Linked DNA regions of Homo sapiens: all the other regions are linked to region 3. Evidence: fine-mapped expression QTL. A gene starts in region 3. Each other region holds a variant in brackets. All regions are shown on one strand. Distances are between the middles of the regions. Region 1 overlaps LIMK2 (LIM domain kinase 2). Region 2 overlaps LIMK2 (LIM domain kinase 2). Region 3 holds the start of PIK3IP1 (phosphoinositide-3-kinase interacting protein 1). Region 4 overlaps RNF185 (ring finger protein 185).

The links. PIP is the estimated chance that this variant, and not a neighbour inherited with it, causes the effect. A credible set is the group of variants that fine-mapping cannot tell apart.
Region 1: its variant is the best candidate, but not a certain one, in a credible set for the expression of PIK3IP1 in testis (GTEx, PIP 0.88).
Region 2: its variant is the best candidate, but not a certain one, in a credible set for the expression of PIK3IP1 in whole blood (INTERVAL, PIP 0.50).
Region 4: its variant is the best candidate, but not a certain one, in a credible set for the expression of PIK3IP1 in whole blood (GTEx, PIP 0.87).

The regions. Positions count from the first base shown.
Region 1 is chr22:31,259,910-31,262,594 of GRCh38, forward strand. LIMK2 (LIM domain kinase 2) reads left to right here. Exons shown (of 16, transcript NM_005569.4): 5 at 1-168; 6 at 2,225-2,330. Among named protein-coding and RNA genes, the nearest start is that of PIK3IP1, 31 kb to the right of the region's middle. The variant A/G (reference allele first, on the strand shown) is at 1,367.
Region 2 is chr22:31,243,766-31,246,450 of GRCh38, forward strand. The region is part of intron 2 of LIMK2 (LIM domain kinase 2); the gene reads left to right. Among named protein-coding and RNA genes, the nearest start is that of LIMK2, 33 kb to the left of the region's middle. The variant C/T (reference allele first, on the strand shown) is at 1,646.
Region 3 is chr22:31,291,274-31,293,958 of GRCh38, forward strand. It overlaps PIK3IP1 (phosphoinositide-3-kinase interacting protein 1), which reads right to left and starts at 1,215. Exons shown (of 6, transcript NM_052880.5): 1 at 1,002-1,215; 2 at 1-23. The coding sequence starts at 1,071. LOC105372997 (a long non-coding RNA gene) reads right to left here. Exons shown (of 4, transcript XR_001755493.3): 3 at 2,457-2,548; 4 at 1,671-1,879. RefSeq lists an enhancer at 548-597.
Region 4 is chr22:31,196,299-31,198,983 of GRCh38, forward strand. It overlaps RNF185 (ring finger protein 185), which reads left to right. Exons shown (of 7, transcript NM_152267.4): 5 at 638-692. Among named protein-coding and RNA genes, the nearest start is that of LIMK2, 15 kb to the right of the region's middle. The variant T/C (reference allele first, on the strand shown) is at 1,151.

The DNA.
Region 1 (2,685 bases), 31 kb before region 3:
GGTGCTGGCACCCATGTTTGAGAGACTCTCCACAGAGTCTGTTCAGGAGCAGCTGCCCTACTCTGTCACGCTCATCTCCATGCCGGCCACCACTGAAGGCAGGCGGGGCTTCTCCGTGTCCGTGGAGAGTGCCTGCTCCAACTACGCCACCACTGTGCAAGTGAAAGAGTAAGTATTTTGAGAACCCTTCAGCAGGGGTTCTTGAGCAGAGTCTGTAAATGGGCCTCAGAGGGCTTAGACCTCCAAAGTCTCATGCAGAACTCCCTTTATTCTCATCTCATATCTTTCTCCTGGACCCCACTATGCTGTAACCGTACCTGGGCCTTGGCACTTACTGTTCTCTCTGCCCAGGCTACTTCCTACCCGATACTTAAGGCAAGAATCACTCACCTTTCAGGTGTCAGGTTTCAGGTCATGTTTGCTCTTTGAAATCATCTGGCTTGATTATGTGTATTAGTTGTTTATCTTCTATCCCCTCCACTAGAATGTAAATTCCAGAAGAAACTTGCTGTCTTATTCAGTGCTGCATGCCCAGGGCTTGGAAGAGTACCTGGCATATAGTAGGAGTTGATTGATTATTATTTTGTCAGTCGAGAGAATGAATGGAGAAAATGTGGTCCATGGCCCAAAAGAAGTTAAGACCCTATCCTAGATTCAGGCCAGAGACCAGATGGAGAAAGAGTCTGTGTCTATCTAATACCAGTAATGTCGTACCTCTGGCCGCTTACCATGTAAATATTGATTGTGTATCTACCATGTGTTGGACACTAGGCTAGTGCTTGCACAGCAGGTGAAAGATACTAGAGTTTGGGAAGTCAGGAGGAGCTAAGGTCTGTTCTACAACCTTATTAGATGAAGAGGAGAGGGAATTGTGTTCAGGGCAGAGGGAGAAGCATTTCTCCAAAAGTAGGAGTCTTAATCATGTCTGATGTAGGTTGAGTGTGGCCAGAAAAGGGGCTGTTAAGTATAGAGGGCCTGGATTATGAAAATCCAGCAGATCCATTGAGAGTTTAAGCAGCAAGGTGTTGTGACCAAGTTAACATTTTAGAAGGATCACTGGTATGGAGGTTGGATTGGAGAGGGGAAAGCCTAAAGGTATAGAGACTAGTTAGGAAGCTATTGTAGGCTGGGCATGGTGGTTCATGCCTGTAATCTCAGCACTTTGGGAGGCTGAGGTGGGAGGATTGCTTGAGGCCAGGAGTTGAAGACCAACCTGGCCAACATAGCAAGACCCCGTCTCTGTTTTTCTTAATTAAAAGAAAAGTCCAGACGTAGACATAGTGGCTCACGCCTGTAATGCCAGCACTTTGGGAGGCCAAGGTGGGCAGATTGCTTGAGGTCAAGAGTTTGGGATTAGGCCAGGCGC[A/G]GTGGCTCACGCCTGTAATCCCAGCACTTTGGGAGGCCGAGGTGGGCGGATCACAAGGTCAGGAGATCAAGACCATCCTGGCTAACACAATGAAACCCCGTCTCTACTAAAAGTACAAAAATTAGCCGGGCATGGTGGCGGACGCCTGTAGTCCCAGCTACTCGGGAGGCTGAGGCAGGAGAATGGCATGAACCTAGGAGGCGGAGCTTGCTGTGAGCAGAGATCACGCCACTGCACTCCAGCCTGAGCGACAGAGCGAGACTCCATCTCAAAAAAAAAAAAGAGTTTGGGATTAGCCTGGCCAACATGGCAAAACCCCATCTCTACAAAAAGTACAAAAAAATTAGCTGGGTATGGTGGTGCGCGCCTGTAATCCCAGTTACTCAGGAGGCTGAGGCATGAGAATTGCTTGAGCCTGGGAGGTGGAGGTTGCAGTGAGCCCAGATCATGCCACTGCACTCCAGCCTGGATGACAGAGTAAGATGCCATCTCAAATAAAAATTAAAAACAAAGTTTAAAAAAAAAATAGAAGCTATTACCGTGATCCAGGTAAGAGATGTGAATAACTACAATGATGGAAAGAAGGCAGAGTTCTTAGAGATGGGAGTAGGAGAGATGAGGGAACTCCAGATTGGGAAGATGATGTTCAAGTTTCTGGCTTAGGCCACAGGGTGAGTGGCAATTCCCTTCACTGAGATGGGGCATCCTGGAAAAGGTGTTGCCTTTCTGTGTGGGTATCCTGGGCCCCTTAGGGGCCACTGGTGGCCTGGGACCTGGTAAACCTTCCCTGCACAAGCAGAATTGGTCAAGCAGGTTTTTAGGACATCTTTACCCTGCCTCAACTCTTGTCTGGCCCAGGGTCAACCGGATGCACATCAGTCCCAACAATCGAAACGCCATCCACCCTGGGGACCGCATCCTGGAGATCAATGGGACCCCCGTCCGCACACTTCGAGTGGAGGAGGTAGAGTGTGTGTCTAATCTGTCTTGTGAGGGTGGGACATGGAACAGATCCTCTGAGAAATCAGGCTGTAGCCTTTACCTTTTCCTACCCCCAGCCCATCTCTTTGTCTTAGCATTGAGCCTGTGACCACTGGTGACCTATTTCAGCGTAACAGGTTCCCAGGGTAGCAGGGATGGTTGATGGACGGGAGAGCTGACAGGATGCCAGGCAGAGGGCACTGTGAGGCCACTGGCAGCTAAAGGCCACCATTAGACAAGTTGAGCACTGGCCACACTGTGCCTGAGTCATCTGGGTTGGCCATGGGTGGCCTGGGATGGGGCAGCCTGTGGGAGCTTTATACTGCTCTTGGCCACAG
Region 2 (2,685 bases), 48 kb before region 3:
GCAGTTTTCTATCCAGGACCAGTTTCCAAGGGTGGGAGGGTGAAATATATCCTCCAGTGTGACATTTCATCTCCCAGTGATGGGTGGCTTGGGCCCTTTGAAGTTGGCTCTGAGGAACCACACACTTGGGTCTGAGCAGCCAGCAGCTTATCACATCTGGTGATCAATCCTTCAAAGGTTCCTCCTGAAGTCTGAATTTTTGGAGGTCAAATGGATTCCACCTGGGAGGGGCTTCTGCTTCAACTCAGGACATGGGGAGAAGGCTGTTCCTCTTCCAGGGGGAGGCAGTTTTCATGGCATTGAGATGTCCTCTCACTTATTCCCCACCCACCCACCAAGTCCTTTGTAAGAGGAGTAGGGGGAGAGGAGAGCGCCTGCAGCCTCCTGCTCACATTCCTAGACACCGACTCACTGAGCCCGTCGCCGCTGGAACAGCAGAGCTGTGTGAAATGTCAAGAGGAGTTATGCTCATAGGCTCCCTGGCCTCAGTCTCTTTGTGGCTTGCATATTCTTCCATTAGTACTGTGTTCATCACATGGAAATCAGAGGGTACAATTAAAAGATAATTTGCTAGTCCCAGACTTAATTTGGGGCCCCCTTCTTGCCTGATTGAATTACAGGGGAACATAATAGATTTTTGGTGAGAAATAGTTGTCTGTGTGGCTGGGAGAAAGATTGCTCCCAGCTCTCCAGCTGGGCAGCCCTTTCAGTATCCCGTATGTTATTTCCCCACTTCCAGCCCACCTCACCTCCTCTGTGGCCCTTGTGTGTCCCCTCGGCTAGGATCCTGACCTCCTGCTCAAGAGTTTAAACTCAACTTGAGACCCAAGGAAAATAGAGAGCCCTCTGCAACCTCATAGGGGTGAAAAATGTTGATGCTGGGAGCTATTTAGAGACCTAACCAAGGCCCAGACAGAGAGAGTGACTTGCTAAAGGCCACATAGCTAGCCCACAGTAGTTGTAACAATAGTCTTAATGATATTAATGGCTAACATTTATCAACCTTTAATGTGTCCCAGACTTTGTGCCAAGGGCTTACATGCAGTGCATTGTCGCATTCAAACCCAGACAGTCTGGCTCTGGGCCCAGGCTGAGCTTTGGTATAGCATGGTAGAACGTTGTCTATAATGTCTAGTCTGGGTTCAAATCCTGGCTTCACTTCTCACATTTACAGCTGAGTGACCTCAGGCAAGTGATTTAACCTCCCTGTACCTCAGTTGCTTTATCTGTAAAGAGAAAAATCACAGCACTGTGGAATAGTGGGGGTTAAAATTCATTCATACAAGTAGTGCTGCAAGCAATGTTTAATACAGGGTGAGCACCTGTTCAGTGCTTCCTTCTTCTGGCTGCCTCTGGGGCTAGAGTGTGGTGTCTTCGTGGTATAGATAGATAGATATGGCTGAGCTCTGCACAAACACCAAGAGCTGTTCTTCACTATTAGAGGTAGTAAACAGAGTGGTTGAGCTCTGTGGTTCTAGAACAGAGGCCGGCAAGCTATGGCCCATTGCCTATTTTAATACGGCCTGTGATTGATTGATTTTTTTTTTCTTTTTGAGACAGAGTTTCACTCTTGTTGCCCAGGCTGGAATGCAATGGCACGAACTCAGCTCACCGCAACCTCTGCCTCCTGGGTTCAAGCGATTCT[C/T]CTGTCTCAGCCTCTCGAGTAGCTGGGATTACAGGCATGTGCCACCACGCCTGGCTAATTTTTGTATTTTTAGTAGAGACAGGGTTTCTCCATGTTGGTCAGGCTAGTCTCGAACTTCCAACCTCAGGTGATCTGCCCGCCTCAGCCTTCCAAAGTGCTGGGATTACAGGCGTGAGCCACCATGACTGGCCTGATTGACTGATTTTTTTAGTAGAGATAGGGTCTTGGTTTGTTACCCAGGCTGGTCTCAAACTTCTGGCTTCAAGCAGTCCTCCCTCCTTGGCCTCTCGAATGCTGGGATTATAGGCATGAGCCACTATGCCTGGCCTATATGACCTGTGATTTTTAATGGTTAGGGGAAAAAAAGCAAAAGAATGCTTTGTGACATGTGGAAATTACATGAAACTCAAATATCAGTGTCCCAGCCTGGGCAACAAAGTGAGACCCTGTCTCTACAAAAAATAAAAAAAAATAAGCCAGGGCCGGGCGCAGTGGCTCACACCTATAATCTCAGCACTTTGGGAGGCCGAGGCAAGTGGATCACCTGAGGTCAGGAGTTCAAGACCAGCCTGACCAATATGGTGAAACCCTGTCTGTACTAAAAACACAAAAATTAGCCGAGCATGGTGGCATGCGCCTGTAGTCCCAGCTACTTGGGAGGCTGAGACAAGAGAATTGCTTGAACCTGGGAGGCGGAGGTTGCAGTGAGCCAAGATCGCGACACTACACTGCAGCCTGGGCAACAGAGCGAGACTCCGACACACGCACGCACGCACACACACACACACACACACACACACACACACGCTGGGTATGGTGGCCAGCACGTGTGGTCCCAGGATGCACTGGAGGCTTAGGTAGGAGGATCACTTGAGCTTAGGTGGTTGAGACTACAATGAACCATGTTTATACCACTGCACTTTAGCCAGGGCAACAGTGTGAGACTGAATCTCAAAAGAAAAAAAAAAAAAAGAAAAAAATCTTTCCATAAGTAAATATCTGTTGGAACATAGCCATGTCCCTTAGTTTATGTTTTATAT
Region 3 (2,685 bases):
GTGGCCGTTGTCCCAGAAACAGCCTGTGAGGAAAAGAAGCCCCCGGACACAGAATAGCGGGCAGCGAACGGAAGACGCCCAGCGTGGCGGACAGGGGAGCCGGGACCACCCGGGCTGAACCTCAGCCTGGTTAGGGGACCCCGGGCCCTGCTGGGCCTCCCTCTCCTCTCGTGGCAACACCCCCACGCCCCACGCACCCCCCCCCCCCAACTCCACGCACACCTCAGGGTGTGAAGCCCCCAGCCTGTGCCTGTCCCCCAGTCAACGCTCAGAGACTGTTAGGTTTTATTTATTTTTGAAACCTGGAAAGCGCTGCAGAAGTGCAAAGCGTTGTTACTCTTGAACTTGTGACCACTTTGGAGGAGGAGATGGAGAGGAGGAGGCCTGGCTTAGGGTCCCTTTGAGGAGCTGGGAGTTTTGGGACGGGGGGCGCCCAGACGTGACATTTGTCCCTGTGTTGTAATGGCCACGTTACATAAACTCCGGTGTTTCCTCCTTCACGGATACGGCCACCTTCTGCCCGTTTAAAAGGCAAATACTCCCTCCCAGGAGAATTCTCCAGGAGCCTTGACTCCGTCAGGCAAAAGATTCAAGACAGCCTCAAACGGAGGAAACCGGCCTCATCGCTGACTGGATGAGACTCCAAGCTCCCACTCCCCTCTGCAGGAGAACCACAGAAGGAGGCTGGGGAAGGAGGACCACACCATGCAAAGGGCTTAGAAAGAACAGGACTTGGGGAGTAGGGGAGATGAACCCCCAAGCTCCATCCACTCATGAGCAAGGAAAGGCAGAGAGAAAGTGGCTTCTTGCCTTTGTTCTTAATGGCAAAGATGGAGCTGCAAGCCCCTGACAAGGAAAGGAGGGGTGGAAAAGCTTTCACGGGACAACAGAAACCGGCTAAACGCTTCGTTTCCTGTCATCCTGGCCCTGTTTGGGAAATAGGGGGCTTTACCCCTTCTGTTTCATGAAGTTGCTGCGGAAAGGAAAGATTGTAATCTCACCTCCAGATCCATAGGCTTCTGCTAGGAGCATGTTGCTGACGAGGAATGCTTGTACCCAGGCCAACAGCATCCTTGCCTCCTTCGTCTTGCAGGTGATTGAACGACCAGTGTTTAACCGAGGCCCCCTTGGCGGCGGCTCTGCCTCCCAGTCCCAGCCTTGCAGTCAGACCTGCCCTTGTTATGCTGTTCTGGTAAACAGCCTCTCTTTAGAACTGGGAGCTTCCCAGCTAGCTTGCTGCAGCGCGAGCTGTTTTTCAGCTGAAAGGCGCCCCCTGGGTCCTAAGCCTCCTAGGTCATGCAAAATCTAACTGAGCCAAGAAAGGAACTCAGCCAAGAGATATGCAGGTTGTGCTTAGCAGCCGATCAGTTTGAGACCTGCGAGGCCGCATCCCCAGGGTTTTTCATCTCTTCTGTTTCCATTTGTGTGAGTACAGAAAAAATAATTCTATCAAGGGGCATCATGGGATGTGGGAAATTATAAGCACTAAAACACAGAACAACTTAGGGAGCTATGCACCCAGGAGGAATTCATGACCACATAGGGGGGAAAAAATAAGAGTTTCTGGTGGGGAGTGGAGTAATAGTTTTTTTTTTTTTCTTTTCTTTTCTTTTTGAGACAGAGTTTCACACTGTCGCCCGGGCTGGAGTGCAATGGCACAATCTCGGCTCACTGCAACCACCTGCCGGGTTCTCGCAATTCTGCCTCAGTCTCCGGAGTAGCTGGATTTTTTTTTTCCCTCACTCTATAGGAAATCCATTTGCTGTAATTTATATCCATCATTAAATCTCACCATATCCATTTGACTTAGGCCTTTTGGAGTTAGGCAGAAGGGCCCTTCTTCCTGTTTGGCTGACAGCTCCCAGGCAGCCTCAGTAAACTGAGAGAGAGAGCAGAGTGATTCGTCAAGACTACCTTGTGACAGGGGCACACCACCACAACCCAGCTAATTTTTTGTATTTTTAATAGAGACGGGGGTTTCACTGTGTTGGCCAGACTGGTCTTGAACTCCTGACCTCGTAATCCACCTGCCTCGGCCTCCCAAAGTGTTGGAATTACAGGTGTGAGCCACCGCGTTCGGCCGAGTAACACTTTATACCCATCCTTGAAAAAGAAAAAGGGCCTTTATGAACACTGACACTTAAAAAAAAAAAAAAAAAAAAAAAAAAAAAAAAACAGTGTAACTTGGCCAGGGTCAAATCTGTCACATTGCTTTTTCTTACATTTGAGGTTTTTTGGGGTGTTGTATATAGTAGGACTATAGAAGGAGTATCTTTAGTTGAAAACACATGTTATGCAAACATGGAAAAATTTGCTCAGCTACATTGTAATAGTCTACCCTTTCTGCCAGCCCTAAATTGTATAGAGGAATTTAAGTAAAATGTTTGCTTTTTTTTTTTTCCCTCACCCTATAGGAAATCCATTTGCTGTAATTTATATCCATCATTAAATCTCACCATATCCATTTGACTGAGGCCTTTTGGAGTAGGCAGAAGGGCCCTTCTTCCTGTTTGGCTGACAGCTCAAGTTCCCAGGCAGCCTCAGTAAACTGAGAGATAGAGCAGAGTGATTCGTCAAGACTACCTTGTGACTCAGTCAGATCCCAAAATAGAAATGGGGAAACTCTGTTTCAATCTTGCAGGCTGTAATTTAAGGAGGAAAACAACTAATTTTTTTTTGGGTGGG
Region 4 (2,685 bases), 95 kb before region 3:
ACCCAGTTCCCACCACAGTGTCATATGACTGGCTTTATCCCCCTTGAAACCATGAACACTTCAAGGGTTGGGTCTGTCATCAGTATTACAGCATCCTGCATAATGCTTATTGTATAACTAAGCCCTCAATTGAGTATTCATGGGTTGAGTGATTTGAGGGGGTGAGACTCAAAAATAATAGCATTGGGTATTTGCCCAAGAATAGTAGGAGATAGAGCTGAAGTTAATAGGGGAAGGTCAGAGAAACCATGAACCTCAGCCCTTACTGCTGACAACCCACCCTCTGTTCCAGTATGGATTTGGGATTTCTGTTATCTGTAACAGGCCCAGGGAAGGCATCTGGCCATGATTCCTAACCGATCTGAGTCAGGATCTCTGTAAGAGGAGTAGGCTGTAGTGCAATCTGGTGAATATCTCATAACGAGTTGATTTTCTCCCTGGTTCTCTATACACGTGGGAAGAACAGTTGCAGGTAGAATGAAGAGTTCGTATTTGGAGAATTAATCTGGCATAAGTTCATGTCCTGGACAAGAAAGAGGCTATGGCCCTGACCCTGTTGGTAAAGAGCTCCAGGTCCTCACAGGGAGCAACTCAAAGCAATTTGTAATAGACTTATTTTACACCATTTCTGTTTCAGAGAGAAGACCCCTCCTCGTCCTCAAGGACAGAGGCCAGAGCCGGAGAATAGAGGGGTGAGGAACATTCTAGGAGAAGCTTCTACAAATGAGCTGATGGCTTTAGAAGTTTCCTTCTTAGCCTTACAATTTTTCTCCTTGATTATAAAAGTAAAGGAAAACTTGTAAAATACAGAAAGGAAAAGAGGGGGAAAAAAATCACTTATAACCACACCAATCCAGAGGTAACCACTGGAAACATTTTGGTTCTATTTTCTTTTCCATTTTTCTATAATTATATATACACACAAATTTTACAAATCTGTGCGTGTATTTTACAGATGTGTGTATACTTTTTACAGTTTTTGTTTTTTGTTTTTTACAATATGTGGCTCCTGTTTTGTAACCCTCTCTTAAAATTTCATTTGTTCTACAGATACTTAGTACCTTCTTTGTGTGAGTGGGAGTCTTTTAGTATTATCTTGAGATTTTACATTGCCAGCAATATTTTACTAACTAGCTGTTTAGCATTTAGT[T/C]GTGTGGATTTAACATAATTCAATCCTTTGTTAGACATTAGCGGCTTTCTTTTTCCAAGTTAAAAAAAATCCTGATGAACTTACAGATAAATTTGTGAGCATGTTCATTATTATTTTATTAGGATAAGACAGGGTCTCACTCTGTAGCCCAGGCTGGAGTGCAGTGGTGTGATCACAGTTCACTGTAGCCTCGACCTCCTGGGCTCAGTCTACCTCAGCCTCCCATGTAGCTGGGACCACAGGTGCACGGCACCATGCCCAGCTAGTTTTTTGAGTTTTTTTTTGTCTTTCTTTTTTTTGTTTTGTTTTGTTTGGGTAGAAACAAGGTCTCACTATGTTGCCCAGGCTGGTCTCTAACTCCTGGGCTCAAGCAATCCTCCCACCTCAGCCTCCCAAAGTGTTAGGATTACAGGCGTGAACCACTGTACCTGGCTTAGGATAAATTCTTAGAAGTAAGATTACTGGCTAAAAAAAAATTGCACATTTGTCTCTAGTGGTCTAGTGGCTAGGAACAAAAACATTTACATTTTTTGCATATTTACATCAAATGTTACTCTTAAAAAAATTCTGTTAAAATGTTAAAGAAATTTTAAAAGCAAAATATTTACCCACCATTGCCAAGAGCCCAGAACAAGTATATTCTCATATCCTCATGTTCTCTTCATCTGTAGGCTGTGCATATGTATTTTTATGTAGCCATCACCATTCTGTTTGCTTTAAAATTTAATTTTGGCAGGTTTTCCATGATGCTCTGAAGTGTCCTCTTTATTATTTAGGCTGCCATTTATCCTATTGAGTTTTTTATTATTTTTTATTTTTCCATGCTATTGCTGGGAACCCATTGAGTTTTGGTTCATTGTAATTTGGGTTTTCCTCATCGAAGGACCTTTTAGTTGTTTCCCCATTTTGCTGTTTAAATAATGCTACAATAACCATCTTTGCACACTTTTTTTTTTTTTTTTTTTTTTGAGATGAAGTTTCACTCTTGTTGCCCAACTGGAGTGTAGTAGTGCGATCTCGGCTCACCACAGCCTCTGCCTCCCGGGTTTAAACAATTCTTCTGCCTCAGCCTCCAGAGTAGCTGGGATTATAGGCATGGGCCACCATGCCCAGCTAATTTTTGTATTTTTAGTAGAGACGAGGTTTCTCCATGTTGGTCAGGCTGGTCTCGAACTCCCAAGCTCAGATGATCCGCCCTCCTTGGCCTCCCAAAGTGCTGGGATTACAGGCGTGAGCCACCGCGCACTGCCACTTTCTTTTTTTTTTTTTTTTTTTTTTTTTTTGAGTTTGAATAATGGCATTTTATTAGGATTTCCAGGAGTAGGATTATTGAGTCAGGGATCTTGAAAGAAATTAAGGTTCTCGGCTGGGCGTGGTGGCTCACACCTGTAATCTCAGCACTTTGGGAGGCTGAGGCGGGTGGATCACCTGAGGTCAGGAATTCGAGACCAGCCTGACCAATATGGTGAAACCCTGTCTCTGCTTTCTTAAAAACATAAAAATTAGCCGGGTGTGGTGGCATGTGCCTGTAGTCC